7 linked regions of the Homo sapiens genome follow. The protein of the gene in region 2 purifies or fractionates together with the protein of the main gene of each other region. This does not show direct contact. Each region holds a gene or a part of one and is shown on either strand. Other genes may lie near its edges. The genes, in order: FASTKD5, SLC2A2, ABCC1, DYNC2LI1, STX17, AGPAT4 and DOP1B.

Region 1 (4,606 bases), on a different chromosome or scaffold from region 2:
TTTATTTTTTTGCAGAGGCAAGGTCTCACTATGTTGGCCAGGCTGGTCTCAAACTCCTGGACTCAAGCAATCTTCCCACTTTGGCCTCCTAAAGGCTGAGATAACAGGCATGAGCCACCACATCCAGCATGAGATTCTTATTTTAAAACAAGGTATAGGCCAGCCACAGTGGCTCATGCCTGTAATCCCAGCACTTTGGGAGGCCAAGGTGAGTGGATCATCTGAGGTCAGGAGTGTGAGACCAGCCTGAACAACATGGTGAAACCCCATCTCAAATAAAAATGCAAAAATTAGCTGGGCGTGGTGGTGGGCGCCTGTAACCCCAGCTACTCAGGTGGCTGAGGCAGGAGAACTGCCTGAACCTGGGAGGCAGAGCTTGCAGTGAGCCAAGATCGCGCCATTGCTCTCCAACCTGGGCAACCGAGGGAGACTCCGTCTCAAAAAAAAAAAAAAGGCCAGACGCGGTGGCTCACACCTGTAATCCCAGCATTTGGGAGGCCAAGGCAGGCGGATCACCGGAAGTCAGGAGTTCAAGACCAGCCTGGTCAACATGGAGAAACCCCGTTTCTGCTAAAAAGACAAAAATTATCCAGGTGTAGTGATACGCGCCTGTAGTCTCAGCTACTCGGGAGGATGAGGCAGGAGAATTGTTTGAATCTGGGAGGCGGAGGTTGCAGTGAGCTGAGATTGTGCCACTGCATTCCAGCCTGGGTGACAGAGCGAGACTCCATCTCAAAAAACAAACAAAAAAACTGGCTTTAAAAAAAAAAAAAATCTGTAAGGGTGGGGGGAGGGTCTCCAGAAAAGAATAAAATTTTTAAAAATTGGCTTTATATAATGTCTGACTATACTTTTATTCTAAAAACTCTGTGACATAAGGCTGGTAAACAGAAAGAAAAATCCAACAAGGACTTACTTGACCGTAGGACATATTAAGATGTTTATTATTTACTAAGAGTAACATGTATACATTTGCAGTAATTTGTACAATCCAACTACATTACAATTCACAGTAACATACACTAGCTCTAACCTGCCTTGGATACAATTAAGTCTCCTCAACACACTATTTTATCGCCAAACTTACATTCTGGCTTTTATAATCATTTTGCAACACCTGGTACAGTATACACCTATAGCTTTGCCATAGAAATGCCCCTAAATGCCCTTCAGAGAGCAGAGGTGAATACTTTCTCATGAAGAAACGCCAACTTTTCTAAGCGAGTTCGTTTCAGTAGTGGGAGCCATTCCCAGTAGGATAACTCTACCACACGGTAGCCAAGCCGAGCCAGCTGCCGCCTCTTCATATTGTGCAGTCCAAGGAGATCCCTGGAGCCATAGCAATACTGGTTCCTGTTTGTGAACTGAACAGCCAGCTTCATTCTTGGGGTCTGCATGCAGGCTGCGGGGCACAGGCCAGCCATCTCCATGGCCCCTGATTTATCTGCTACATTGCAAAGGAAGCCCCCCAGAGGTACAGCTGCCTTATTCTCCAACTCCATGGGCTGCTGCCCAGGCTCTGACTCAGTTTTGCCCTGGAAATGTCCTCTTGCTTTCCCTTTTAGTAACTTATTCATCAAATCATCTGTAAGGCTGACTCCCACATGCTCAAGCCTTAATTTGGCTACATTTTCAGCCGGCGTGGCTTCTCTATTAAATGGTAATGGCTTCAGGTTAACATCAAGCTGGACCTCTAAGTCAGAAGATCGGGTATGAGGCAAAATCATATGGTGCTTGACGTACTGGGGCCCCCCCAGCATGGTCTCCAGTAAAAAGACAGTTTCTAAGAATTCAGGCTTTGAATTCATATCCTTCTCTGCTAAATACCACAGCAATTCAGACCCCTCTTGCTGAAGGTGAGTACTAAGACGATTGCCTCTGTAATCTGGACACTCAATGCCAACTGTACCATCGAGGGTATATAGTTCCTTAAGGAGGTCAAACTTAGTTCTCTCCTGAGCTAACCTGACAAACCCTGGACTGAGAGCGAAATCAATTAACTCTACTGGAAAGTACTCCAAAAATGCCAGGCCCAGCAGGCAGGTGGGCAGGTGTTCTGGGTACTGGTTGAATTCAGGCATCTTTCTGTGAATCTCACTTATCAGGCTGGAGTAAAATTCTTCTGCATTGGGTGGCTTATAATTCAGAGTTCCAAATGACCACAGAATCTTGGCAACATCTTTACTTCGACAGTGTGCCACTCTAGGAGGCAAAGACGCAGCCACTGCATTCATTACTCCTTCATTCAGGAAGCGTAAGGCCGAGCAGTAAAGAGTCAGGTGCATGACACCTTGAACTCCCAGGGAAGGAATTCGCTGAGGAGCTATCTCTCCAATCTGCTTCATGAAATTGATGTGATCCACGTGAGTGAAACGGAACATTTTAACAATATTCACTAAGGAGCGACTACTCAGATGCTGAATGTTAGCACAAGCCAAGTCTCCAATTTTCCGCATGACAAATTCAGAGAGATTAGTACTTGATTTAAAGAACCCCAAACAGATGGTACCAACCTCCTCCAAATTGATCAAATCTATATATTTAAGGATCAATGATTCCAATTTTTGCATTAGGTCCTGGGATACCTGACGATTTTCACCTATAACATAAATTAAGTGAACTAGCTGAGACAAGGATAGATCCTTCCAGTGCAAATTAAGATAACTAGAAAAAATGTTTAAAAACCTAGGTACTTTGCGGCCTAAGTACCTCCAGAGATCAGCCACCAAAAGGAGCTGATCCATATTCATCTCCCATACCTGATGGCAACACTTGGTCTCATACACATCTAGCATTGAATGGGAGTGAGGGATTCCTAAAATGACAAAAGCTTTCAAAACATTGATCAGATCTTGGGTATCAAAGAGCTGTATCTTCTTCACACTCAGCTGGCAGAGCAGAGCAAAGCTGGTACTGCCCAGCAAGACAGGATGCTGCTCTGCAGGCAAAGAGCTCAGCTTACACAAATAATCAACAATGACTTGAGCCTGGAGATTATTTTGATTAACTCTGACTTTGTGCAAAATTAGTTCACCTTCTGAAACAGACAGGAGCTGAGAAGTCTCAGATGCATTATAGCTGTGAACACGGTATTCTGGTCTTAGCTGTAGGAAAACTCGCATGTTTTCAAAGGAATCAAACACTTCTACGTCCTCTTCATCAACTCCTGTGGCCCTGGGTGAGCCCAGCTGCAATGTACTGGCCTTAGAGGAAGAAGTCTTGCTGAATTCCAAACCTGGGTGGGCACTGCTGGTTGTCAGGATTCTCCGAGAAGAGAAGGTGCTACATATGTTCTTAACTTTTTTGGCAGAATGGCAGAGGCTAATGTGTTCTGGAGGGTCCTGTCCCCCATGCTGTGTGCTGCTCACATTCCAGTATGACACACTTCGGACTGCACCAAAGGCAGAAGGACTGCAAAATGCTCGGTATCTTACAAGTTTTAATGACTTGAGAGTAGCTGCCATTCTGGTGTCAGTATTGATCTCTTTGGCAGTCAGAATACAGTCCTCACAGATTTGACCAGGCAATTTCTTGTTTATATGGTGCTTGATTAGAGCTGGACGGGGAGGTGTTCCACAAAAACTGCCTGGAAATCTTCAGCATATCACAAGAGCCAGGGATCACAAATGACTGGGTCAGAATTGGTGCCAGATACTGAAAAAAGGGTAGATGAAGAATGAGTGGCTTCTACCTATAAAAGCATCCAAATTTACACATTATAAAAAACAGGTTGAAACTACACTGCTGTCTACTCAAATAAGTTCAATGCTAGTAAATGCCCAAACCACATGACAGCATATATCAAGGATAAATTCTGCGGTCTGTGTAAAGGCCTAGGAAAACCCCCAACCCAGGGTACCCGTGGGCAGTTCCTGGACTGCTGCTCACCAGACTTCCTTCACTGTACAAGGCAAGCAGTGACGGCTAAAGAAGAGACGGTGCTCCGCTAACATTTGATAGGAAGAAGGAAGGCAGATTTCTAGAAAGAAGGCTGGGAACAAAAGTGAGCAACTCCTTCCATCTCTTTGATATCAAGGCAAACAGGTCCTACCTGAAGAATGTTTATAAAAACTGCTATGCTAACAGCACTAAGTAAAAAGTGGGATCTGGTATAAAAGATAATTAGTTGGCTGGGTGTGGGTGGCTCATGCCTGTAATGCCAGCACTTTGGGAGGCCGAGGCAGGCAGATCACTTGAGGTCAGGAGTTCAAGACCAGCCTGGCCAACAAGGCGAAATCCCGTCTCTATTAAAAATACAAAAAATTACCCAGGTGTGGCAGCACACACCTGTAATCCCAGCTACTCAGGAGGCTGAGGCAGGAGAATCCCTTGAACCCAGGAGGCAGAGGTTGCGGTGAGCCAAGACCGTGCCACTGCACTCCAGCCTAGGCGAAAAAGTGAGACTCCATCTCAAAAAAAAAAAAAAAAGATTTAATTAGTTATACCTACGATAACCCTCCCTGTTCTTATAGCGCAAAACTGTTAATTCCAAAATTCTGTCATTCTAATGCTGTTCTTTTACTTTTTAGAAGATGCCTACTCTCCTCTTCAGGAAGCTTATAACAGAATTTGAGTCACTATTAGAGAGTAGTCACAGAGTAATGGT
Region 2 (5,004 bases):
CTTGGTCAAAGGAGGTTTTGTTTCTAAGGGGAAATTTCTGAACACGACCAAGTCTTAATAAGCCCCGTCAACCTTCATTCATCCACTCTAATGTCCAAGAAGTTGACACAAGAAGAAGTACATAAGTGCTACTGAAAATAGCAAGAAATTAGAGAGGATCTTAACCTGTCCAAGTTCTGAGGTTCTAGATGGTTTGCCTGTTTTCTCAACAACCCAGTAGGTAGGAATTATTATTATCATTTCACATATGGGGGAGCTCACATGGAAAGAGTAAACAGCTTGTCCAAAGTCCACATAACCTAGTAAGTGCAGAAGATCTTCAAGCCTTTTCTCCTAACTTCCTCATAGGCTATAAGGTGTTCAGCTTGCACTTTAAAAAATGCTACCTTCATTAGGAGCTTAATAACTTTAAGTTAGAGAAACTAGATTTCATATCCAATTTAAAATATGCTGCTGGATAAATGTGGAAGGGTAGAATAAGCAAATGGCTGAACTTCAACATAAAACAATGTAGTGTTTATATTGTGGCTCATAAGTCATATAGGGTCTATTAGAAAAAAACAAATAGATGTGGGAGTCAGAAAAGCTCCAAAAGAGTCCCAGCTAGGCTCCTAACGTCACTGAGCCTAAGTTTCTTTGCCTATAAAATGGGTATAAAACTAGTTAATGCATAGGATTACTGTAAAAACTAAGATAAATAATGTGGTCTTCCTATAAACAGTAAAAGGGCTACAGAACAAATGCATCTTTAATCATGTCTTTATCATCTCATTCATTTCTTTTGTCAAACAGCCATGTGTCAACTTTTCATACTTTACCGATACTCTTTGCAATACCACAAAGTACATGAAATTATTCCTATTTTAGAGGTGAGGAAGCCAGGGATCAGAGAGGATTAAGGAGCATACCTAACACTACACAGCTGGTGACAGATACTCTAGTGTGGGAACCGAGAGCTGATGGTCTTAAACGCCACTGCTAACCTGAAGAGCAGATTTTTCCAGCAATTACTGATTGACTAGGTAGGGAGGAGAAGCTTATACCCTTTTCTTTAAACTACATGTCTCCAAAACCTAAACCAAAGGTGATCTTGCATGCAACTTTGGAAAAAGCCAGGGGCTTATCAAGTCACAGAATTTTTAAGTTGAAAGAGACCTTAGAGAACAATGGATTCTTGTCTAATTCCTCCATTCTTCAGTTGTAGAAACTGAGGTCTCACAGGCCAAGTTGTTTATGTCATTTGTCTGATTTCTGTGAGCATTTTGGGCATATTCAGTGTGACAACTCAGGTCTCTTGACCCCAGTTCCTTGCTTATCCTACTTCTTTCAAAGTCTGGATAGATTCACAAAGCTGAAAAACATTGCACTACCTCAGTTCTCATTCTTTCTGGGTTCCATTGTTAGGCAGTTCCTTGGTTATCAAGAAAAGATCTACAACGTAATTTCAAAAGCCCCTAAGAAAATTAATGATAGTTTTGAATGAATCTTGAACATCTGCGATGTGCCAGACACTATGTTAAGCACATTACCTTCCTTTTTGCAGTAGCTTTCAAACTTTAGTTATTTGATTACTACCTTCATGAATTTTGCCAAATCTACATACCATCTATGTAGTTGTTAACTTAATGTTTGTCTTTATATTGACCTTAAAGTTCTAACTACTTTAGCTTTATCCTGGGCTATAATACTCATGAAATCATGATGTGCTAATTATTCTTTAAATACATACTATATAAATGCTATATAAATAGCATTTTATATTTAACTTTAAATATCAAACATATAAATGGTGCTTATATAATATGTATTTAAAGTGTTTATACATTATAATATAATTTATCTTTTATAATTTATAAATACTATTTAAATATGTATTTAACACTATTAATAATTATATAACTATTAACATTAAAATTGTTGTCTAAGCCTCTCTAATATAATCTCATTTAATTACTCCCTAACTCTAAAGTACTAGTATAATCCCTGAATATCCCATATTATATCACTGAGCCCAAGTTTCTTTGCCTATAAAGGGTATATTGTATCCTAATATGTTTTTGTTTTCTCACAATAGAGAAAACCCAAAGCTCAGTTAAATAACTTAACCCAGGCCTCACAGCAGTTTAGTGGCATTGCTAGAACCCAGATCCAAGTCTGGCTGACTCCAAAGCCAGTGCAGCTAACCATGCCATCTAATGACATGAAGGAATGTTCAGCAGAGTAAGTTGCACCAGATGAGAACTTAAAGGTGAGACCCTACAGGGCACAGATTGATCAACTTATATGATTGTGTGTACAGGGGTGGGTGAGTTTAGAAACCACGTATAAGGGAGCAAGGACACTATATCCTTTATATTTTTAAGTTTTTTTTTAAAGTATCATATCTAGAGAGAAGTTGAAACAGTAGTGAAGTGATCATTCCATAACCTTCGCCTTTATTCACCACTGGTTAACATTCACCAATTTGTTGATCTCTCGCTCTGTAGTGTTTGTGTGTGTGTGTTGTTTTGGCTGAACCATTTACAAATAAGCTGTAGATATTTGTGTCATTTCACCCCTAAATACTTTAGCATGTACAAAGAACAAAGACATCCTCCTACATAATTAGATACCATTATTATATCCAAGAGTGTGAAATTGATACAGTAATATTATTTAAGATGCAGCCCATATTTAAAATTTCCCAACGTCTCCATAGTTCCCTTATTGCTATTTTTTTCTTCCTTCCACAATCTAAATCATTTGTTGCATTTGGTTGTCAGTTTGTCTTAATCCCTTTTAATCTAGAGAACAACCCTTCTACCTCTTTTGTCTCTCCTGCATTGACGTTTTTGAAGATTCCCGATGAGTTTTCATGATTAAATTTAGGTCAATCTGCCCCCTTTTTTTTTTTTTTTTTTTTGGTTAGGAGGGGACATATTTCTTTAGTAATATGGTTATGCACAATTACTTGAAAAAACTTATGCAGACTAGTCAGTTAACAGAGCAAAAATCCTTAAAACCCCAATTACTGAATAAGAAACAGTTCTTCAATTGGCAAAGTAAAGAGAATTAATTTTGATCTGTGGTAGCTACACCCAACCTCCCCCAAATCCTCTGTATGACTTGACTGTATTCCCCTAACTATCTCCTGAAAACCAGACTTGAAATGAATATAATGCTGCTTTACCTTATCTTCTGTCATTGTACTAGTTGGGAGTCCTGTCAATTCCAGGTCTTGTGTGAGTGTGGCACATGCACCTGACTAGCTCCTGCCTGTTTATTCGCAGCTCTGCCTAGGCCTAGTTATGCATTGCAGGAGGAGGAGCAAGGAGAGGGAGGAGTTGGGCTACCCAGACCTGAGAGTCCAAGTCTAATCTTCTCAGCGGCAGCTGAATATTGATGGGAATCTAATCAATAAGTGCTTTGCCTCAGCAACCTGTGGCTTCAATACCTTTGTTCCACTAGGAAAGAAAATGGGAGCAGGTCCCTTAGGCATAAGTTACAAACCAGAGGCAATCACATTTCAAGGCATGTGTTATGTGGCAGTAATTGGGAGCTGGTGAAAAGAGAAATCTTTGGAGTCTTTTGTAGAAGATGAGATATGCTGAGCTGCCGTGCTGTGCTGTGGAGCATGGGAGGCACACTGCACTCTGCTCCACAGATAATTAGTGCTGTGGTGTTTCTGTTTAGAGCTGAGCTGTGTGGCCGGAGACCATTGTTGACTTGAATGGTTACCTGGATGAGCTTTGGATTGTTAGGGACTTGGGTTTGAATCTCAACATTTTACTGGGGAGTATAACCTTAAGCAAGTGGCTCACTGTGACTTTTCTCTGATTAGTTTTTTATTTTTGCCTGATAAAATAGAAATAACACACATTTTGTTTTGTTGAGTGGATTAAATGAGATAATATGTGAAAGTGTTTGGCATATCTCAACATATAATAAGTACTTAGCAAATAGCGGTTGTTATTATTATTGCTTCATATATGTCAAGAAGCACTTGCTGGAGGCTTTAACGTAGAGTTCTCAAATAAACCTGCTCATATGGCTTGATCTTGGGCCTAAGTATCCCTTATGATATCCAAACCCTGTGGGGGTTCAGGAGATATCAAATTTATTGAGCTTTAAGTGTGTGTGGCAACTGGGGCCACAGATTGCACTGAGGCTCAAATGGAACCAGTTCCCAGCGGAACAAAAATGTAACAAGCAGCAACACAATGAGGGGTGTTATGAAGAAACAGGGTGAGAAAATGAAGGATTAGAGGAGATTCAGATTTCACCTTTTTATTTTGCCACCCTGTTTTCATTTCTGTCACCTCTGCAAGGTGACACACCTGAAATGTTTGGTTTGAGAAGGTAATTCAATCAAACTACAAACTTTTACTGAGTCCAGCACAGTTCCATGCTCCGAGATGACTGAGATAAATAAGTCACAGCCTCCTCTTTCTAGGTGTTTATAACATATAAGATGAGACATATGTAATGCAGACACAATACAATAATTTCATAGTGGAAAAGCGTGAGCAAATATTAATAGTAATGATGGTTAATCTTTACTGAGGTCTTGCCGGGTGCCAGGTGCTGCTCTCAGCACTTGACATGGATTAACTCGTTTAGTCATAACATGAGGTGCTCTGTGTCATAGTGCCAAGCTTTGGGGAGCAGCTTTGAAGTCAGACTTTAAAGCGCCCAGTTAGCCACGCTGACTTTCCGCATCAGTTTTGGCTGGTGATGAGCACGCCCCATTGCCAGAGCGGTCCACAGTCAGGAGCGGTTCCATGGCATTTGCCAGTGACATGACATTCTGCAGGAAAGCGTCTCTGTGCCGCGTCGTAAATGATACCGGTGTGGTTTACCAACCTTTGTCTTTTGAACCTGCCTTTTCAGAAACGGAATTTGCCTTGAGTGCGCGGGCGGCCAGTGAGCCTTTAACTTCTTGTGCTCAGCCCCGGCCTGCCGGCGCGGAGCACGGCGGCAGGAAACCATTCTCTTCTCCCATTGGGAGCGCGACCCGCCATTCAC
Region 3 (4,259 bases), on a different chromosome or scaffold from region 2:
GGGTCTCTAATCCTTGGCATTCTTGACATCTGGAGCCAGATAATTCTTTGGGGGGCTGTCCTGCGCACTGTAGGAGTTTTAGCAGCAATACCTGGCCTCGACCCACTACATGCCCTCGCCCCCAGTTGGGACAACCGAAAATGCCCCCAGATATTGCCAAACGTGCCCTGGTGGGGGAAAATGTCCCTAGCCCTCAAACATGATTGCACACTATCACCTCGTGAGTTTTAAAAACACTAAGACATTAGCAGGCGTGGTGATGCATGCCTCTGGGCCCAGCTACGTGGTGGGCTGAGGTGGCAGGATCGTTTGAGCCCAGGAGGTGGAGGCTGCAGTGAGCCAAGATCATGCCACTGCACTCTAGCCTGGGTGACAGAGCGAGACCCTGTCTCAAAACATAAAAATAAATAAAAAACAAAAACAATGACACCTGGGTGCCACCACAGCAATCGCAATTTCACTGGTCTGGTGCAACCTAGGTGTCAGGAAGTTTTTTTGTTTTTTCAGACAGGGTCTCATTCTGTCACACAGGCCGGAATGCAGGGATGCTATCAGGACTCACTGCAGCCTCCAACTCCGGGGCTGAAGTGATTCTTTTAACTCAATCTCCTGAGTAGACGGGACTACAGGTACGCACCACCATACCTGGCTAATTTTTTTAAATTTTCTGCAGAGCCAGGGTCTTGCTATATTGACCAGGCTGGTATTGAACTTCCAAGCCTCCAGTGATTCCCCCACCTTGGTCTCCCAAGCTGCTGGGATTACAGGCATGAGCTACAGTGCCTGGCCTGCATCAGTTTAAGCTCCCCAGGTGAGTCTAATTCACAGACAGGCCTGAGAATCACTCCTCTAGTTCATCAAGTACCTGCAAGACTGTCTCTTCCTAACCTAGGAGCCAAGCAGTTTCCTTGACCTCGAGACAAAAAAAAAAAAAAATTTATAGGGATCAAGAAGGTAATTTAGGTCCTTTGAAATTGGATGTACACAAATGCCTGCTACATACTCTTACCATGCAAGGAATGTGCCACCTGCTCAGTTCAAATTAAGAGTGACAACAGGCTGGGCGCGGTGGCTCATGCCTGTAATCCCAGCACTTTGGGAGGCTGAGGCAGGCGGATCACCTGAGGTCAGCAGTTCAAGATCAGCCTGGCCAACATGGCGAAACCCTGTCTCTACTAAAAATACAAAAATTAGCCGGTCGTGGTGGCAGGCGCCTGTAGTCCCCGCTACTCAGGAGGCTGAGGCAGAAGAATCGCTTGAACTCAGGAGGCAGAAGTTGCAGTGAGCCAATATCATGCCACTGCACTCCAGTCTGGGGGAGAGAGTGAGACCTGGTCTCAAAAAAACGAAAAAAAAAGAGTGACAACAAGCTGAAACACAGAATGTTAACAGCAGAATGAGGATCCAAACTTGGATTTCCCCACAACAAGGGCCACTGATCCATCTAAGAAACTCAATTACTCACAGCTGATACACAAAGACATCTACACGCCCACCCTTGAAATCAGCTTTCCTAACGTACAATGCCTGATGCGTGCTGTCCCTGCCACCTAAGGTCACGGAAGCTACCCTCATCCTACTGCTCCAGAAGCTGGGCTGGAAATCCCCACGCTGGCCCCAGAGTAACCCAGGGCTGCAGGAGGGGATGTGGAAGTCGGGCCACATGCCAATGGCACAGCGTCCCCTACCTTCCGATAGACAGCCCCAATGACAGCGGTCTTGATCCTCATGCCACTGACGAAGCAGATGTGGAAGTACTGGTGCAGCACGAGGGTCTGCAGGCAGGCAGTGACAAACAGCAGCACGGTGTAGAAGTAGCCCTGCCAGTCTGGGGCCTTCGTGTCATTCACGAACTTGATGAGCAACCTGCAAAGGAGCAAAGAGAGGGCCTGGAATGACTTGTGACACGTGGGGGCAGGGAAGAGAGCTTCAGTGTTGGCACTGCAACTTTCTCCTGAGCCAGATGAGCTAGACACTATCACTTCAATTTCATAGATGGAAAAACAAGTCCACAGTGGTGATCTGGCTGTGCAGGTGACCCAAACTGCTCATAAAAGAGGCCTCTGCCTTGGGGTTGTGCACTAATTGCTCTAGCTATATCTCATCACCAGCAAGTCACCCAAAGGAATTGCATAGGGAACACGAGGTAAAGAGGTAGGGAGGAAAAGAGAAGGGATGTGTAGCCCCTGAGTCACAGAGCAGCAGAGAGCCAGGTAGGAGAGAGGCAACTTCCTTTCTGACTCCCCAGTTCCTGGTTGCAGTTTTTTGTTGTTGTTTTTATTCTTTTTTTTTTTTTTTTTTTTTTTGAGACAAAGTCTTGCTCTGTCGCCAAGGTTTGAGTTCAGTGATGCAATCAGCTTGCTGTAACCTCTGCCTCCTGGGTTCAAGCAATTTTTATGCCTCAGCCTCCTGAGTAGCTGGGATTACAGGCGTGCACCACCACGCCCGGCTAATTTTTGTATTTTTAGCAGATGGTTTTACCATGCTGGCCAGGCTGGTCTTGACCTCCTGACCTCAGGTGATCTTCCCACCTCAGCCTCTCAAAGTGCTGGGATTATAGGCATGAGCCACTGCGCCCAACCCTGGTTGCAGTTTTTTCATGAGATCTGCTGGCATTTCCTTGCTCTTGGTTTCCCAAGACAATGCCATATCCTCCCCATTTGGGTTTTAGGGGAGCCTAGTGGGTTTCTGTTACTTGCAAACGATGTGGTCTTCACTAATATGGTAATTAAGTAAAGCATAAAGTAAAGCTAGGCAGTGACCATGGCTCACATCTGCAATCCCAGCACTTTGGGAGGCCGAGGCAGGAGGATCGCTTGAAGTCAGGAGCTCGAGACCAGCCTGACCAACAAAGCAAGACCCTGTCTCTATTTTTTTCAAAAAAGCTAAAGTAAAAATGGAGACATCTGGCTATGAGCCCACTTCAGGACACAGCATGACCCCAGGGTTATGACTGATGCAACTGAAAGATCAAAGCCAAGGAGGGAAAATGGAGCCCACCTGGGAGGGAAGGGGTCTTACTTTAAGATCTGCGGCCCGGAAAACATCATCAGGTCGTGGATGGCCTTGAAGAAGAAGCTCATGAGGAAGTAGGGCCCAAAGGTCTTGTATAACACCTTAAACAGAGAGGGGTTCCACTCCTTCTGTGGGGACTTGACGATCAAAGCCTCCACCTCCTCATTCGCATCCACCTTGGAACTCTCTTTCGGCTGGGCAGGATCCTTGGAGGAGTACACAACCTTCACCGGCTGCCTGGAACACAAGGAGGTGAAGCCGTTGTGGGGTCTGCCAGAGATGCAGCCCCCTACCACAGGGACATGGCCAGGGAATGTCACCCTTCAGGGAAGGCAGAGTCAAAGACAACAAGCCCAGGGAAAGAGGCAGCTCAGCACAGTGGTTACAAACACGGGCTCCAGAGCCACGGGCTCCAGAGCCACCGGCTCAAGGTCTGGCTTGGCCACTGGCCAGCTGCGTGACTTCAGACAAGGTCCTTAAGCTCTCTGGGCCTCAGTTTCCTCCTCTGTGAAATGAGGATAAAAGTAGGACCTACCTCCAAGGTAGGTAAGATTAAACGAGTTGAATAAGTTAAAGACTTAGAAAACTGATGGCTCCAAACTGATCTAGAGTCAAGGCAATCCCCATCAAAAGCCCAGCTGGCTGCCAGGTAGAAATTATGAGCTAACTTTAAAATTCACATGGAAACTCAAGGATCCAGAACAGTCAAAACAATCATGAAAAATAAGAATCAAGTTGGAGGATTCACACTTCCTGATTTCAAAACAATACAAAATAACAATCATGGCCAGGAGTGGTGGTTCACACCTGTAATCCCAGCACTTTGGGAGGCCAAGGTGGCTGGATCACTTGGGGTCAGGAGTTTGAGACCAGCCTGACCAACATAGTGAAACCCCATCTCTACTAAAAATACAAAAATTAGCCGGGCATGATGGCAGGTGCCTGTAATCCCAGCTACTTGGGAGGCTGAGGCAGGAGAATTACTTGAACCTGGGAGGTGGAGGTTGCTGTGAGTGGAGATCAGGCCATTGCACTCCAGCCTGGGTGACAGAGCAAAACTCCATCTCAAAAAGAAAGAACAACAATAGGCTGGGCGCAGTGGCTCACGCCTGTAATCCCAGCACTATGGGAGGCCGAGGTGGGCAGATCACCTGAGGTCGGCAGGTTCAAGACCAGCCTGACCAAACATGGAGAAACCTCATCTCTACTAAAAATACAAAATCAGCCCGGCATGGTGGCACATA
Region 4 (3,495 bases), on a different chromosome or scaffold from region 2:
TCATGGCTCACTGCAACCTTGAACTCCAGGGCTCAAGGGATCCTCCCATCTCAGCCTCTCAAGTAGCTGGGACTACAGGCACACATCACCATGCCCGGGTAATTTTTTTGTTTTTTGTTGCCCAGGCTGGTCTTCAACTCCTCGCCTAAAGCAATCCTCCTGAGTTGGCCTCCCAAAGTGCTGGGATTACAGGCATGAGCCACTGTGCCCAGCTTCTTTTCTATTATTTTTGTTAAAGCAAAAAAAAAAAAAAAAAAAAAAAAAAAAAAGGTTACAGTTAACATTTATTTTTAAGGTCTTCTTGGCCAACCACAGTTATCTTCGGAAAACTTTACTTGCTATCCCTTTAAAACATCAATGCATTATTTTGAGGCCGTATCATTGTCATGTTGAAGATCTAGTGGACTTGGTGGTTTTTGTCTCATATTGGTTATTCCTTTTTCTCCCTCTGGCATGGCCTGTGTGATAGCCCTAGTTTTCTCACAGTCTGCTGTCTGCAAAAGGGAGATACTACCAGCAAAGAATCTCAAAACAACATTTTCACCTTTGTCATTGGTAAAAATAATTTAACTTCCAGTTAAAGACAAAGTTTGCAGTAAACAATTTGTTTATTCTTTATGAGTTAATCTTTAAAACCGCAAGTGGTAGATAACTGGTGAACTGAATTAGCTTTATTAGAAAAAAATAAAACAAGCTGTAAAGACTACATATGATTATTACCATGAAAATTCTTCCTAGAATCCAATGAGGAAGTTAAAGGAAAAAAAAAAACACACAAGGAAAAATTCTTCCTAAGTCTATATACCATTTTGAAACATTTAACATTTAAATTTTAGTAACTTAGGGTATAGGTATGAAAGGTACGCTCTGCAATTTTTCTGAAAATTAGAATGGATTTTCTTTTCATAGCAACTGTGAACTTCAGTTATGTTAGCCAAAGGGCATTGATTGCCTCATCTTGCAGAGTAACCACGTTTTATTTGAAGTAGTGACAACCTTTGTACAGTTATTTAGACATTGAACAACATGTAGGAGGCCAAGAGGCATCCCCTTAGATGGTCCCTTTTACATGTCAGTTGCCTTGTGCAGGATAGCCACCTCCACTAAAATTTATTTATGAATTGTAAAGGTAAGATATACTCCTTGTGAAAAAATTCAAGAGCTATAGATAGATGTATATAAAATAGAAAATGGAAGTATCCTGCCCTCTCCCTATCTGTGTGCTTTTTTCATGTGGCACACATTATGTTTTCATGTGGCCACTGTTATTTTTGCTGGCTGCCTTGGAAGCCACCTGTGAATGAACGCTAATTATTTAATCAGTCCTTACTGGGGGACATCAAAGTTGTTTCCAGTTGTGCTGAGACAGAGCAATGGGTTTCCTTCTTTTACATCCTTGTGCATTGCTCTATTGTTATGGATGATAAATTTCTAAAAGTAAAATCACTGGGACAAAGGATACACACACACACACACACACACACACACACACACACTTTTTTGTGACAGGATCTCACTCTGTCACCCAGGCTGGAGTGCAGTGGCGCAATCACAGTTTACTGCAGCCTTGGCCTCCCAGGTTCAAGCGATCCTCCCACCTCAGACTCCCAAGTAGCTGGGACCACAGCGCACACCACCATGCCTGGATAATTATTTTTCTCAGTTTTTGTAGAGACACGGTCTCCCTATGTTGCCCAGGCTGGTCTCAAATTCCTGGGCTCAAGCAATTCTCCTGCCCCAGCCTCCCAAAGTGCTGGGACTATAGGAATGAGCCACCGCACCCAGCCTGGGTATGTATTTTTTAAATATTTTGCTAACTTCAACCAAGTTTTTGATTAGAGCTGAACAGCAAACAATTAAAATAAGATCACTTTTGAATACTTGAAGGATGACAGATGTCTAGTTCATTAGTTGAAAGACAATTCATATGTATTATGTAGTTTATGTACATAATTTTGTCTGAAAGTTTAATAAATTCATCTCTGAGTGCTGCTTAGCCACACAGAAACTCTGAAGACAGTATTTCTAGAAAATAAGTCCTAAGCATAATCATTTACAAAATAATTGGCAAGAAATATTTAGAATGATAATGCTACTAAGGATTCATTGATATATCTAAAAAATGAGAAGGCAGTTTTAAGGTGCCTCCTTGAATTAGTAAAGTTGATTTTTCTTAAAGTGATACATATTTTTGTTTTAGGAACTGGAACAGTACAAAAGAAGTTCTTCCAAGTCTTGGAAACAAATCGAGCTTGATTCTTGAACCTATTTCAATTATTGTATATTTATTTCTTCTTTTCCAAATACAAATAAGATTATACTGTGAATTAACTATTGTGGCAATATGTGAAGAAAGTTAAACTGTATAATTTGTTAAAGGACAAGCTGGATTTCTTGGACTAGTGCATCTCCCTGTATATCTTGAAGCTTTTTAAAAGGAAAAATTATTGTAGAACCACGTGTAATTTTTTTTAAAATAAAAGAATCTTCTACTACCTACCTCTAACATGTTTAAGTGGTATATACTCAATTCAGCATGTATAAGTTTCTGCTTATATGTTTTTAGGAATATAAAAGTAAGAGTATTTGGTTACAGTTTTAAATGCAAGGTTAAGTGCCCACGTTAGACACATTCTTTCTAAAAGGCATTCTCAGCTGTAGCTGGGAGGAAACCGGAATTGGGTTCACAGATGTCAAAATTTTACTCTTAACAGTGAGGCGCAAGAAGCACCTGAAATAGGAGATGCACATTCCCAGGTCCCCACACCTAGAGTGTCGCCATCAGTGGTCTGGAATGGGGCATTTTTAATCAGCACCAATTTCACCCTGCTGTGAGACTGACACATTTATTTTAAATACCACTTTTTGAAGAACAGGCACATCTAAGGAGATATCCTATCAAGAAGCAGGACAAAACATCATGTGTTGCGGATAACCAGGATTATTTCCAAGGTGGGATAGCCTTTAAGAAGCCATTCCAATCTGTAGATGTGTGTACCTGCTAGCCAAGTTCATTTTGAGTAAGTATAATTGCTATGATTAAAAATGATTTATTCTATGTTCTTCCATGTCCACATACAAAATATATTGACTCCCAGCTTCAGATAAGCACATTTACTACCCCAAGGGAGTACTGTCTGAGCAGATAGCAAGCCATCTGCTTATTGCAATGAACTAGGACTTCATAAATTATTTGCAGTACGTATGGTTCTGACACCCTTGAGAACAGAATTTTCAGCATGTTTCCAAGGAACCTCAGTCTTTAGCACACGTTTCTTGCTGAGTGCTATGGAAAAAGAAATCCCTTTAAATTTACAGTGAACATTATGATCTCAGAAACATCACTGACTTGGTGGGAAGAAACAGCCTATTCCACAAGAGTAATAGGAATTGTTATTATGTAATTTGATTTTCTTACACATCACTGTCCATTTTTGACTTGAGACACAAACTGTCACATGTTGAAAGCCATTGTGTTTTTCTAAGGTGCTATCA
Region 5 (4,259 bases), on a different chromosome or scaffold from region 2:
ATTTATTTTTACATTTTTATTATTTTCTCCTTTCTACTTTTTTTGCAATTGTTTTTACTATTTTCTAGTTTCTTGCAATGGATTTTCAGTCTACTAATTTTCAACCTTTTTTCTTTTCTAATATATATATATGCAGTTACAGCTATAAATTTGTATTGCTTTGGCTGCCTGTAGGTTTAAATATGCATTATTTTTCTTTTCATTCAGGTCAAAGCATTTTTTTTTTTTTTTAAGTTGGAGTTTCACTCTTGTTGCCCAGGCTGGAGTGCAATGGTGCAATCTTGGCTCACTGCAACCTCCGCCTCTTGGGTTCAAAAGATTCTCCTGCCTCAGCCTCCCGAGTAGCTGGGATTACAGGTGCCCACCACCACACCCGGCTAATTTTTTGTATTTTTAGTAGAGATGGGGTTTCGCCATGTTTGTCAGGCTGGTCTCAAACTCCTGACCTCAGATGATCCACCCTCCTCAGCCTCCCAAAGTGTTAGGATTACAGGCATGAGCCACTGCGCCCAGCCAGCATTTTTTATTTCTATTGTGATTTCTTTGACTTGTGGGTTATTTAGAAATATGTCTTTCTTCATTATTGGTCATGAAATGTTTATAGATATATTTTATTAATGATTTCAAGTTTAATTTTATTATGATCAGAGTATATGGTCTGTATGATATCAGTGTCAATATTTTTGAAATTTGTCAAAACTTCCTTTAAGACTTAGTGTATAATCAATTTTTATAATTGTTCTCCATGTGTATTTGTGTGTTTTTGACATGTGTATTCTCACCTTGTTTGGTATAATGTTCTATATAATTTATATCTAGTTTGTGTTAAACTTATTGTTCAAATCCTCTATATTAACTTAACATCCTTTTGTCCATTTGTTCTGTTAATTACTTAAAGGTGTTAAAGCTTTCCCTTATGATTGTGGATTTGTTTCAATTTTTCTTTATAGTTCTTGTCCGGTTTTGCATTATATGTATTGTGGGTATGTTATTAGGTGTACTTAACTTAGGTATTATTATATATTCCTGGTACAGATATTATAAAGTGATTCTCTTTATTTTTAGCAATGTTTTGGCTTTAAAGTCTGTTTTTTCTAATATTGCCGCAGCAGGTTTTCTTTGGAGAGGAGGTGTTAGGGTTAAAGTGGTTTATCTTTTTCATCTTCTTACATTGAACCATTCTTTTCTTTATGTTTTAGATACAATCGCTTAAGTTTTTTAAAATTCAGTCTATAAATCTTTATCCTGTAACTGGAATATTTATTTCATTTTTATTTAATGTAATTATCGATATATTTAGGTTTAAATCTTTCACCTTATTGTGTGCTATTTCTTAAACATATTTTTTAAATCTCCATATTTACTTTCTTTTGTATTGATCTTGTTTTTTTTAATTTATCTAATTTTTTCCTTTCTAGTTTAGGAACTACATTTGAGCCTTCTCCAAGGATTTCATCAACTGTGGAACAAAAATTTTTTTTTTTTAAATGGACAGTTGCGGCCGGGCGCGGTGGCTTACGCCTGTAATCCCAGCACTTTGGGAGGCTGAGGTGGGTGGATCACCTGAGGTCAGGAGTTCGAGACCAACCTGGCTAACATAGTGAAACCCCATCTCTACTAAAATACAAAAAAATTAGATGGGCGTGGTGGCTGGCGCCTGTAATCCCAGCTACTCGGGAGGCTGAGGCAGGCGAATCGCTTAAACCTGGGAGGCGGAGGTTGCAGTGAGCCAAAATCGTGCCACTGCACTCCAGCCTGGGCGATAGAGCAAGACTCCATCTCAAAAACAAAAACAAAAACAAAAACAAAAAGAATGGATAGTTGCATCTGTACTGACTCTTTTGCTTGTCACTGTTCTCTATAAAAGTACAGTATAACAATTTATATAGTATTTATATTATATTAGGTATTATAAGTAATCTAGCGATAAAGTATACAGGAGGATATTCATAGGTTTTACACAAATACTACACCATTTTATGTAAGGCTTTGAACATCTATGGATTTTGGGTATTTGCAGGGAGTCCTGGAACCAATCCTCCATGGATACCAAGGAATAAATGTATATACTTTTACTAGAAATTACAACGTACATCTTTAACTTAGAAGTACAGATAATATCAGTTCCTTAGACTATTTTAGTTCCATGTATGCCCTGCAACTTAAATGCTACTTTTATATAAATATTTCTAAACACCACAGACATTAGTATTATTGTTTTAGTAGAGTTACTGGTCATCTAGATTTACCCACTTTTTAGCATATTTTCATTTCTGTTCATTTCTTTTTGCATTTCCAACTTTTTATCTGGGATTAATTGTTATTTTTGAAGATCACCATTTAATATTTCTCTTACTGTGTGTTATTGACTGAAGGCAAATTCTCTCAGCTTTTGTTTGTCTAAAAATATTTTTATTTTACCTGTGGTCTTGAAAGATATTTTTGCAGCATATAGAACTTTAGGTTGATAGTAATTTGCTTTCTATACTTTGAATATTTTGTTCCATTGTCTTTAGGCTTTCGTTATTGCTGTTGAGAAGTCGTATTATAATCTTACTGTTTCTTTGCAAGAAACTCTTGTCTCTAGCTGCTTTTAGACATCTTTTCTCCTTCTTTTTCTCTCTTCTGGCTAGGTGTATTTTTCCTTTTATTTATTCTTCTCAGGATTTGTTGACCTTGAATTGTGGATGGATGTTTTTCTTCAATGTTTTGAAAATTCTCAGTCATTATCTATTCAAATTCATTTTCCGTCTTCTTCTGGAATTCTAAGTAAATGTATATTGTACCCTTTTCTAACTATATCTTCTGTATTTCTTAACTTTTCTTCTATATTTTTTACTTTCCTTGTTTCTTTTTTACATAGTTTCTTCAGATCTGTTTTCCAATTTATATCTTTCTTGAACTGGGCCTAATATGAAGCTAAACTCAATTATTAAATTCTTGTGGACATTATTTTAAAATTATAGAATATTCATTAAAAAACCTATATGTTGCTTTTTATAGTTTCCAATTGTCTGCTAAATTTTCAAGCTTTATTTTTATGCCTTTGAACAAAATAACTATAGTTTTGTAGACTACATTTGCTCATTCCCTCATTACATGTCCTTTTGGATGTTTCTGTTGCCTGTTGTTTTTGCTGTTTCTTCCTCATGCTGCATATGTCCTCATGTGCTTGGTAATCTTTGATTGGTGGACATTGTATTTGAAACATTATTTATAGAAATTATTTGAAGCTAGGGATGATGTTATCTTCCTCCAGATATTTTCATTTGCTCTTCTAAGCCGCTGGGGGCACTAACTTTCCAAGATTATCTTTATCCAATTTTAGAGCTTAAGGTTTTCTGTGAGCTACTCGAGACTGGAGGCCAGTCTGTAGTTCATGCAAGGGCTGCTTTATTTTAGGATTACCTGTGTTCCTAGGGTGGAGCTCTGACGATCCCAGCCAAAAGTACCAGAGTCCTTATACTTAGCAGGTCTTGGCATTGAAATTTTAATCCAAGCTTTGTGAGTTTATATTCTGGTATGCAAATACTCCCAAAGCAAATGTGGTCCTGAGTTCAGGACTCACCTCTCTAGATTTCCATCTTTGCCCAATTCTTGTCCTATAGTTACTTACTATCTTGTTTGCTTTATGGTACTTTTCAAGTTTTTTTTTTTTTTCCTATTGGTTTGTTTTGTGATTTGATTTTTGTTCAACTTTTGAAGTAGCCATTAGTGGGAAGGTTAGTCTGAATCACCTAGCCTGCTGTTTTCAGAAGCAGAAACACCTGACTTTATGTTCTTCATATATGGTTTTACCATCCTGTTCCCTCTGTTTGATTTTAGAGAGATTCCCTAGTTGCCCTATCCAATGTAGTAGCTCCTAACTACATGTGACTGTTGAGCACTTAAAATGTAGCCAGTTTGAACTGAGATGTGCTGTGAATGTAAAATATATACCAGATTTCTAAGACTTACTACAAATAAAACAATGTAAAAGATTTTAAGTTTTATAATTGCATATTAAAATAGTATTTTAGCTATATTAGGTTAAATAAAATATTATTAAAATTAATTTCCCTTGTTTTTACTTTTTTAATGTAATTTAAAAAATTTTTAAATTACATATGTGGCTTGTGTGTGTGATTTGCATTATGTTTGTGTTGGATGGTGTTTGCTATGTAATAAAGTAGTTAGAACACAAGATCTGTGGTCTGGATTTGATTCTTGCCTATACTATTTACTAGCAGTGTAATCCTGGGCTACTTTTTGAACTTCTT
Region 6 (4,259 bases), on a different chromosome or scaffold from region 2:
TCTATGTTTTTAGAACTTACTTAGATTACTTCTGTGTTGAATGGAAGAATGAAAATGAGAAAAATAACACATTTTTAGTACGACAAGAAAATTTCTGAGCATTTTTGAGAGTAGCAACATAGAGGCAGCTTTCTAGTCTTTCATCCTTGGCTTAGTGCTTTAGGATTCTTAAAGTGTGCTCTTTTACCCTTGACACACCCCAAGAGGTAGATATCGTCACCCCCATTTTGCAGATGGGGAAATGAGTCAGCAAGGAAAAGTGTCTCACCCAAATCCTACAGCCGATGAGCTGCAGAGTTCAGGTGAATGGCGTAACTCAGCATCACGGACCCCTCCGAGAGACTGGCCCGATAATCCAGGCGCAGGTCCACTAGGGCGTGCTCACAGACACGCAAGGCTACACACCATGCACACCTCCACTTCTCCAAGGACCCCTCTTGCCTAAGGTCACGTCCTGGGCTTTTGCCCACAGATCTCTGCACACGGTGCTTCATGCCCTGTGCAGGGTGGGCAGATGTGCTGGGCGCTCCCATCAAGCCTGCCTGCAGGGCCGCCAGCGAGTTAACTCAGGCCCTAGGCTCTGCAGTACGCTCTTCCCACAAGTCAGCCAGGATTTTTTCCCTTTTTCACTTCTGTGGATTCAAATAATTCATTTGTATCAACAAACAAACAATGCATTATTGTCCTGTAAGCAGAGGGAGCTTCTCTAGAGCTGTCTTGTAACTCCTTGGCTTACCTAGTTTGGTTGATAAACAATGACTAAATGAGCAAATAGCCAAAAACATAACTGCATAGAATAGGCCTTATAATGTGTGGCCAGTTTTTGTATAGAGCTGTTCATTCCTTCTCATGTTACCACAGCAACACAGGCAGCTTTTCTCAGCAACTTTCAGCTGCGCACCTGGAGAAAGACATATCCTTCCTAACTCATGCTCCAAATACCTATCGGTCCAAGTGCCATTGGTGTCTTGGCCTAAGATGATTTAATAGCTAGCATTTGTTCTGCAAAAATAGCACTGCTTTTAGTTTCTTCTTCTTTTGCATTTTTGGCACCTGTTGGCTGACAGCAGTCTGCAAAGGCCGCTGGAGATGCTACAGGGCAGAACTATTCCGTGGAGTAAAATGGGAGCAGACAGGAGCCCGGAAGGAAGGCAGAAGCCTGGGGGTTTTTTGTACATGGGATGTCGGCTCTGATTTGACCCTCATCAGAGCAGGACCTGGCTCCTTTAGGGCTGCAGACAAGCTCTACATGCTGGGAAGGGGCGAGGCATTTTATAAAGTGAAACTGCATTTTATCAGGGGTGACTTTGGCTGTCACTGCTGAGAGGAACAGTCGATGCAAGCTCATCTCACAAATCACTGCAGAATGCCCAGGCTGTACGTTCATGATGTTTGTGTTCAATTTCAAGATCCATTTCTTCAGGGAGTTGGGTCCATCTTCAAGACTTACGCCAGGAGACTGCACTGCAGAGACCGAGCGAAACTCTCCCTTGCTGTGTGCCAGGGACACGCTTCGTTGGTCTCCACGCACGTGCTTGCCATCTCTGCTCTCACAAATGCTCACGGGCTCCTGGACCTGTGTCTCCTGCCAGGAGCTGTGCTGGCCTGCCCACCCCTCTCAGCTGCCCACACCTCCGCGGCAGCTGCCTCCCGTGAGTAGGATCTGAAACACCAAAGCCACGGGCAAGGGCAGGATGGAGGGGCAGCGGTCCATGTCAACATACACCACAGATGACCCAGAAAAGCACTTTAATTTTTTTTTCTTGGAGGCATAATTTAGTCATCTCACCTAAAGCACTTTTCACTTTATCTCTGGCAACCAAGGGTTACAGAAAACTCAGCACCAAAGGATGAAAGGGGAACTTGTCCCCTTCGGTCCCCAGCCCTGCCCTCCCCTGCAGCCTAAAATACCCTTTCTATGATCACAGAACAAAGTTCACACTCACCACACAGCCATTCTCACACACACTCGCACAAAAAGAAAACCAAAGCCCACTAAAGCACATGGGGAAAAAAAGATTACAAAACATCTTCCTCCCCATCCGGCCTTGAGACCAGACTCCCTGGCTGGAGAGGTCGTGACTTCCGCCGTGCCCAGCAGGGGCTCACCCAGCCTTTGTCACCGTGTCCCACTAAGGAGGATATGCAGAGGCCACCAGTTCCCCAAGGTTCCCTTCGGATGGTGACACCTCCCTGAGTCAGTCATTCAGTTTCTGCTTGCTGTCAGAGTTGCCGTAGGCAGAGCCCTTGTCAATTTCCGTCACACCAATCATCCATCGAACTCCCACGGAGGCTGCAGAGACAAGGAGAGCAGAGTTAGGAGTAGCCCAAACAGACTACAGGGCCGTTTTCCCACAGAGCAAGTGAGAAGGCCCGTGGCCGCAAATCACAAGCGCCAGCTCAGAGCTGGCTGGCGGGTTTGAGGTGCCATCATCCTGCCGGCTTTACAATCATCCTTGAGTGTGGACATCCATGTGACATTAAGACAAAGCAAGGCTGCTCTGGTGGGGGTTTTCCTCCTTGGACCCTGAAGGTGAATGATTTGGCAAGCCATGCACAGCCGTTCGCAGGGACTCAGAGAAATCCCTGGCTTCCTCTGCTGACCCCCAGGTAAAGAGGATTCTTTTGTGAATAAGGGACAGGAAGTTAACAGGGCATGTTCAGCGAAGTTTTATAAAGAACAGACCAGGAGCCTGGAAGACGCAAGAGCTCGAGTATCGAGTGCCCAACACGTTTCAGCACTGCTTTTGGTGCAAGCGTTAGAGCAGTGAGAAAATCCCCGCCCTCTCCTCTGACGGCAGGATTTGCCTACACCAGAGAATGGGCAGGACCCTCGTGGGAGCCCAGTTTAATATAGGAAGCTGGAAAGCAGGGCCTAATGCTCAGAAGTTGCAATTTCAACTACACCCTCTGGAGCGGGCAGATGTGGTGAGGTCCTTGGGTGCAGGGCCCAAGACTTAATCATTTGATGTGCTCAGCACTGGGCATGGGGCTTGGAAAACAGTCCATTTATAATACATGCTTAAGAATGGATAGACGAATAAGTGAATGAAATCCCCCAAATCATGATGCACAGGATTATCTAGCATTAGCATCGCGGTCGATAAACTAACTGGGACATGGATGCAAGAGCCTGGGATGGGCGAATCCAGCCCAGCCAGCAGGAGGCACGCATCTCCCATGGGTCATTTACAAACTGGAGGGCTCCTGCATGGAGCGTAACAGTAACAGTGAGAGTGGAGTTATTGTAGAGCAGAAAGAAGTGAGTAAAACGTGGACCGTGTGGCCTTGGAAGAGGAGTAAAGAACACAAACACAAAGTCCTTCAGGGAAGAATGCAGTCAGGCGCAGGCTCAGAGTAATGGGGCACGGCAGTCAGCTCCTCAGATGCTCCTGGAGACGCCGTGTCCACACTGCACCCCTCAGATGCTCCTGAAGACTCCCTGTGTCCACACTGCACCCCTCAGATGCTCCTGAAGACTCCCTGTGTCCACACTGCACCCCTCAGATGCTCCTGAAGACTCCCTGTGTCCATACTGCACCCCTCAGATGCTCCTGGAGACGCCCTGTGTCCACACTGCACCCTGGGCAGTGCTCAGGCTTCTTTTTTTGGTACTCGCTACACAGCTGGGTGGCCCTGTCTGCAGCCTTCATCCTGAAGGGGCCCCTCTCCAAGACGGCGTGGGTGTGTGTGTGCCTTGCTGTTGCCTGCTATTGAAGCAGAAGGGTTGAGCTTGCCCCCGCCCTACCAGGGGCCCTGGCACCTGCAGCTGCCCCGGACCCTTGGCCAGCCTCAGCATGGCGGGGCATGGGGGTGCCCCTGGACCTGCCTTAAGGAGATGAGGTGCTTTCTTCTCCAACCTCTTATTTTTTTCCCTTACACGGTGTGGGTGTTGTTTTAATATTTTAATTTTTAACACTAAAATACATCTTAATCTTTCAAAAGACTGTATAGTAGGGTCTATTTGAGGAACAGGAGCCAGCTTGTCTACTGCACCCATATGCTGCAGCATTGGTTGGCTCAGTCAGAATGAATGAGCTAGGTTTATGTGCTGTGACCTGTTTTGGTGGTTATGATTCATTAGGTGAAAAGGCGAGCTGAAGAAACTCCACTGATACGGGTTTATAGATGCACATATGCTTGAGACTGGAACCACCACGTGCATCAAATTGTCATTAACGATTATCTGGGAAGTGGGCTCAATGGGAATGGTCTCCTGACACACTTTCCATTTTCTGCGCTTGTCTATTGCTTGGGCC
Region 7 (4,259 bases), on a different chromosome or scaffold from region 2:
CATTCAGGAAATAAAGAAACATTTATTCCGGAAAACCTACGACATTTCGGTCAAAGCAGCAAGAGTCATGGCACTTGAGCCATGACCTGCTCATCATCTCCTTCCTTCCCCAGCTTAGCTCCATGGAAACGTCACTATCCACTCTGGTGCATGTGGCCAAGCAAAAGGGTGCTCTCTTTCCCCAGCTCCCAGTCAAGGGCTTTTGCACCTCCTGGGAGGGGCAGGCCACCAGCACGTCACCTTCCCACCCCTCTGCTGGATGTGGCAGAGGCTAAATCCAGGTGAGTGCAGTGGAGGAGTCATGGGCTCCCTGCCTCCACCCAGACCCCACTCCCAGGCAGGGGTTCCACTCAGTCCTGGCAGGCCCAGAATACTGGGGCCCCAGTTGCTCTCACTGTAGCTTTCCTGGAGGGTGAAAGTTACATGCTGGGAGAGGAAGACCAAAGGCTACTGCCTCTGCCCAGTGCCCTATAGAATATCACTCTCAGAGAAGTGGGCCACTGCCCCCATCCCCAGCAATACGGTTCTGAGTTTTGCTCAGGGGGAGAAGGAGGCCATAAGAAGAGTGTTCCCAGTGGGAAATACCTGATAGAAATCTGTTTTCTCTGCAATGACTTTCAATATCCCTGGAGCAATGGGAGGAACCGTCACCATCTGCAGCTTGCCAAAAAAAGGGTTGTGTCCAGAGCTCTTATAGCGTTTCATCTTGTCTTCAATGACAAGCGCCAGGGACTGGGAATGGTTTATCACTTCCAGCAGAGTGGAAATGGCCACGTTCTGGAGGTAGCAGTCAGTCACACAGCAGCAAATAGTCATGAGGGACTTCAGCCAAGATGGAAAACTGGAATCACCGGCTCCTGAAAGGAAGCCAGCCGGAGAGGCAGAAACAAGCAGAACCACGTGAGAATGGGTCCCCAGTCTGCAGATTCTACAGCACCCTAGATCTGGGAAGTTACCTGAGAAATCCACCTGGACAGCAGTGCGCTAACCTCCCGCTGGTGAGACTTATTTGGAAATAAGGTCCTTACAGAGGTAATCAAATTAAGATGAGGTTGTTAGGGTGGGCCCTAATCCAATATGACTGGTGTCCTTGTAAGAGGGACATGTCAAGGGAAGACAGGACATACAGAGGACACCCTGTGAAGACAAAGGCAGAGACGGGACTGATGCAGCTGCAAGGTGAGGAGCCCTCCAAGGGTTGCCGGCCAGCACCAGAAGCTGAAGAGGCCAAAAAGTATTCCATCCAGGGTCTCAGAGGAGGAGTATGGCTCTGCTGACACCTTGATCTTGGACTTCTGGCTTCCAGAACTATGAGACAAATTTCTCAGTTTATGGTACTTTGTTAGAGGAGCCCTAGCAAACCAATATATAAAATATTGGCCAGGCACGGTGGCTCATGCCTGTAATCCCAGCACTTTGGGAGGCCAAGGCGGGCAGATCATATGAGGCCAGGAGTTTGAGACCAGCCTGGCCAACATGGTGAAACCCCATCTCTACTAAAAATATGAAAATTAGGGGGCCAGGTGCAGTGGCTCACGCCTGTAACCCCAGCACTTTGGGAGGCCTAGGCGGGTGGATCGCGAGGTCAAAAGATTGAGACCATCCTGGCCAACATGGTGAAACCCTGTCTCTACTAAAAATACAAAAATTAGCTGGGTGTGGTGGCGTGTGCCTGTAACCCCAGATACTTGGGAGGCTGAGGTAGGAGAATCACTTGAACCCGGGAGGCGGAGGCTGTAGTGAGCCAAGATCGCGCCACTGCACTCCAGCCTGGCGACAGAGCAAGACGCTGTCTCAAAAAAAAAAAAAAAAAAAATTAGCTGGGCGTAGTGGCACGTGCCTGTAGTCCCAGCTACTGGGGAAGCTGAGGCAGAAGAATCACTTGAACCCAGGAGGCGGAGGTTGCAGTGAGCTGAGTTGGTGTCACCACACTCCAGCCTGGGCAACAGAGCCAGACCCTGTCTCAAAAAAAAAAAAAAAACAAAAAAACCCAACACAAAAAAAACTTTATCAACAGGCATCATGAAATAGTCTATTTACTATCACTGAATGCCACTCATGTTCTAGGTCTTCTGATGGGCTGTGCTGGACACCCAGGGTTTAAAAACATAGGCCCCACCCTTACCACTTTGCCATGTGGTGAGACACAAGTCAAAAATGTACTAATTACAAATGAGGAAGGGAACAAATGAGGCCAATAGCACCTTCTTGGCTTACACAATTTGAGCTAGTCTTTAAATATAGGTTGAGAATCTCTAATCTGAAAATTCCAAATCCAAAACCTGAAACCTTATTAGCACTGACATGATGCTCGAAGGAAACAGTCACTGGAGCTCTTGGATTTTGGATTTCTGGATTAGGAATGCTGAATCGGTAAGTGTAAGGCAAATATTCCAAAAATCTGAAAAAAGTCCGAAATCCAAAATACATTTGGTCCCTAGCATTGTGGATAGGGGATATTCCACCCACGTCAATCGCCTCATCGTATGATTCCCAAAGAGGGACTTCGGCAGGGCTGCCTCTCACCTGGCAGCTGGAAGAGCGTTGCACAGAGCTGCTCGGTCTCTTCCTCGGACAGGTAGACAGGGAAAGTGGCACAATCCAGCAGCAGGTGGCAGGCGGCGGCAAAGGCCTCCCTGCGTTCCTCCCTGGAACCCCCCAGGTCAATGACCACCTTCTCAACATCCCATTCTCCCCCGTTTTTCCTGGCAGGGCTGCTGGGCGAAGACGATGGTGACTCTGAACTTTTTGTCTTGAATGGAGACCCTCGTGCTGTGAACAAGTCTGACAGCATCTGCTTGAACTGAGGCACAGTGATGGGCTTGGGCTCCCAAGAGTTCTTCCTGCTGGAATCATTGGCTGCCAGGCTCTGCGTCCCATCCCTGTCCCTCTTCCCTGCAGGCTCCTCGGACTTGCTTTCTTCTCCTGACGCTGTCAGCTGTACTCCAAAAATGTTCTTGCTGGCAAAGTTGGCGATTAGCTCTTGGATGCAAAGAAACGTCCTCTGCATGCTCCCGCCCTTCTTCCAAACGTCGTCCCTTTCCAGAGAAACTCGAGGAACCCTCAAGTGCTCAGAGAGCTCCGGTGACGAGGCACTGAGCCCGATCCCACTGTCCTCAGACTTCAGAGGGGGAAACGAAGCATCTTCGTCACCGGGAATCACTGCCTTTGTTTCCAAAATTATTTTGCCGTTTTCACCTTTTACTGGACTCTGTAAAAAATAAAAAGATGTGAATTGTGCATCTCTTAACACCAAGCTATTTAAGTATCAGTTGAAATCATGAATGTATTTCAATTCTGTTTTTCAAAATCATCACTCTCCAGACTAGAGAATCCCTGTGTTAAGTGTATAATGAAATTTAGGAGGCACCCAAAGCAGGAGAAGGAGAGCGGTGGGTAGCAAAGAGGAGGCTGGTACACCCACATGCTCTCTGGGGAGGCTGGCTTTTGGGCCTATTTTTCTTGTGTTTTTGTCTAAATATATAACCCCTTTAGAGTTCAAAAAAGTTGTTTAAGAATTGTTTCTGCCAGGCGTGGTGGCTCAAGCCTGTAATCCCAGCACTTAGGGAGGCTGAGGCGGGCGGATCACCTGCCACAATTCTCTGGACAACAGAGCGAGAACTGTTTCCGACAAATTAACAAATATGAATGAGGAAACTGAGCTGAGGGTAAAATAAAGGTATGAAGAAATAAAATAAGGCCAGGTGTGGTGGCTCATGCCTGTAATCCCAGCACTTTGGGAGGATGAGGTGGGTGGATCTCCTGAGGTCAGGAGCTCAAGACCAGCATGGCCAACATGGTGAAACCCCATCTCTACTAAAAATACAAAAAATTAGCCAGGCATGGTGGTGGGTGCCTGTAATCCCAGCTACTTGGGAGGCTGAGGCATGAGAATCGCTTGAACCCATGAGGTGGAGGTTGCAGTGAGCCAAAATCATGCCACTGCACTCCAGCCTGGGCGACAGAGAGAGACTCTGTCTCAAAAAAAAAAAAAAAAAAGGTAAAGCAAGTCAGAGAATAGTGTACGTTATGGGTTGAACGGTGTCCCCCAAAAATAGGTTGAAGTCCTAACTCCCAATACCTGTGAATGTGACCTTAATTTGAAAATAGAGTCTCTGCAGATGATCCAATTAAGATGAGATCATTAGAGTGGGCCCAAATCCAGTAGGACTGGATTTATAAAAAGGAGAGATCTGGACACAGAGACAGACATGCACACAGGTTGACAGCCAAGTGAACATAAAGGCCGAGACTGGGCT

What was found.
Region 1: the proteins of SLC2A2 (region 2) and FASTKD5 purify together in Homo sapiens (affinity purification with mass spectrometry; one large-scale study listed by BioGRID and IntAct). This does not show direct contact.
Region 3: the proteins of SLC2A2 (region 2) and ABCC1 purify together in Homo sapiens (affinity purification with mass spectrometry; one large-scale study listed by BioGRID and IntAct). This does not show direct contact.
Region 4: the proteins of SLC2A2 (region 2) and DYNC2LI1 purify together in Homo sapiens (affinity purification with mass spectrometry; one large-scale study listed by BioGRID and IntAct). This does not show direct contact.
Region 5: the proteins of SLC2A2 (region 2) and STX17 purify together in Homo sapiens (affinity purification with mass spectrometry; one large-scale study listed by BioGRID and IntAct). This does not show direct contact.
Region 6: the proteins of SLC2A2 (region 2) and AGPAT4 purify together in Homo sapiens (affinity purification with mass spectrometry; one large-scale study listed by BioGRID and IntAct). This does not show direct contact.
Region 7: the proteins of SLC2A2 (region 2) and DOP1B purify together in Homo sapiens (affinity purification with mass spectrometry; one large-scale study listed by BioGRID and IntAct). This does not show direct contact.

The regions. Positions count from the first base shown.
Region 1 is NC_000020.11:3,145,607-3,150,212, forward strand, and holds the end of FASTKD5 (FAST kinase domain-containing protein 5, mitochondrial), read right to left. Parts: intron 3,655-4,606; 5' UTR 3,465-3,654; coding exon 1,170-3,464; 3' UTR 913-1,169; downstream 1-912. UniProt on the Homo sapiens protein: Plays an important role in the processing of non-canonical mitochondrial mRNA precursors.
Region 2 is NC_000003.12:171,023,487-171,028,490, forward strand, and holds the start of SLC2A2 (solute carrier family 2, facilitated glucose transporter member 2), read right to left. Parts: upstream 3,235-5,004; 5' UTR 3,185-3,234; coding exon 3,170-3,184; intron 1-3,169.
Region 3 is NC_000016.10:16,043,443-16,047,701, reverse strand, and holds part of ABCC1 (multidrug resistance-associated protein 1), read right to left. Parts: intron 3,253-4,259; coding exon 3,022-3,252; intron 1,867-3,021; coding exon 1,689-1,866; intron 1-1,688.
Region 4 is NC_000002.12:43,807,505-43,810,999, forward strand, and holds the end of DYNC2LI1 (cytoplasmic dynein 2 light intermediate chain 1), read left to right. Parts: intron 1-2,200; coding exon 2,201-2,263; 3' UTR 2,264-2,506; downstream 2,507-3,495. UniProt on the Homo sapiens protein: Acts as one of several non-catalytic accessory components of the cytoplasmic dynein 2 complex (dynein-2 complex), a motor protein complex that drives the movement of cargos along microtubules within cilia and flagella in concert with the intraflagellar transport (IFT) system, facilitating the assembly of these organelles.
Region 5 is NC_000009.12:99,944,301-99,948,559, forward strand, and holds part of STX17 (syntaxin-17), read left to right. Parts: intron 1-4,259. UniProt on the Homo sapiens protein: SNAREs, soluble N-ethylmaleimide-sensitive factor-attachment protein receptors, are essential proteins for fusion of cellular membranes.
Region 6 is NC_000006.12:161,134,342-161,138,600, forward strand, and holds part of AGPAT4 (1-acyl-sn-glycerol-3-phosphate acyltransferase delta), read right to left. Parts: intron 2,294-4,259; coding exon 2,199-2,293; 3' UTR 1-2,198. UniProt on the Homo sapiens protein: Converts 1-acyl-sn-glycerol-3-phosphate (lysophosphatidic acid or LPA) into 1,2-diacyl-sn-glycerol-3-phosphate (phosphatidic acid or PA) by incorporating an acyl moiety at the sn-2 position of the glycerol backbone.
Region 7 is NC_000021.9:36,229,402-36,233,660, reverse strand, and holds part of DOP1B (protein DOP1B), read right to left. Parts: intron 3,212-4,259; coding exon 2,527-3,211; intron 858-2,526; coding exon 586-857; intron 1-585.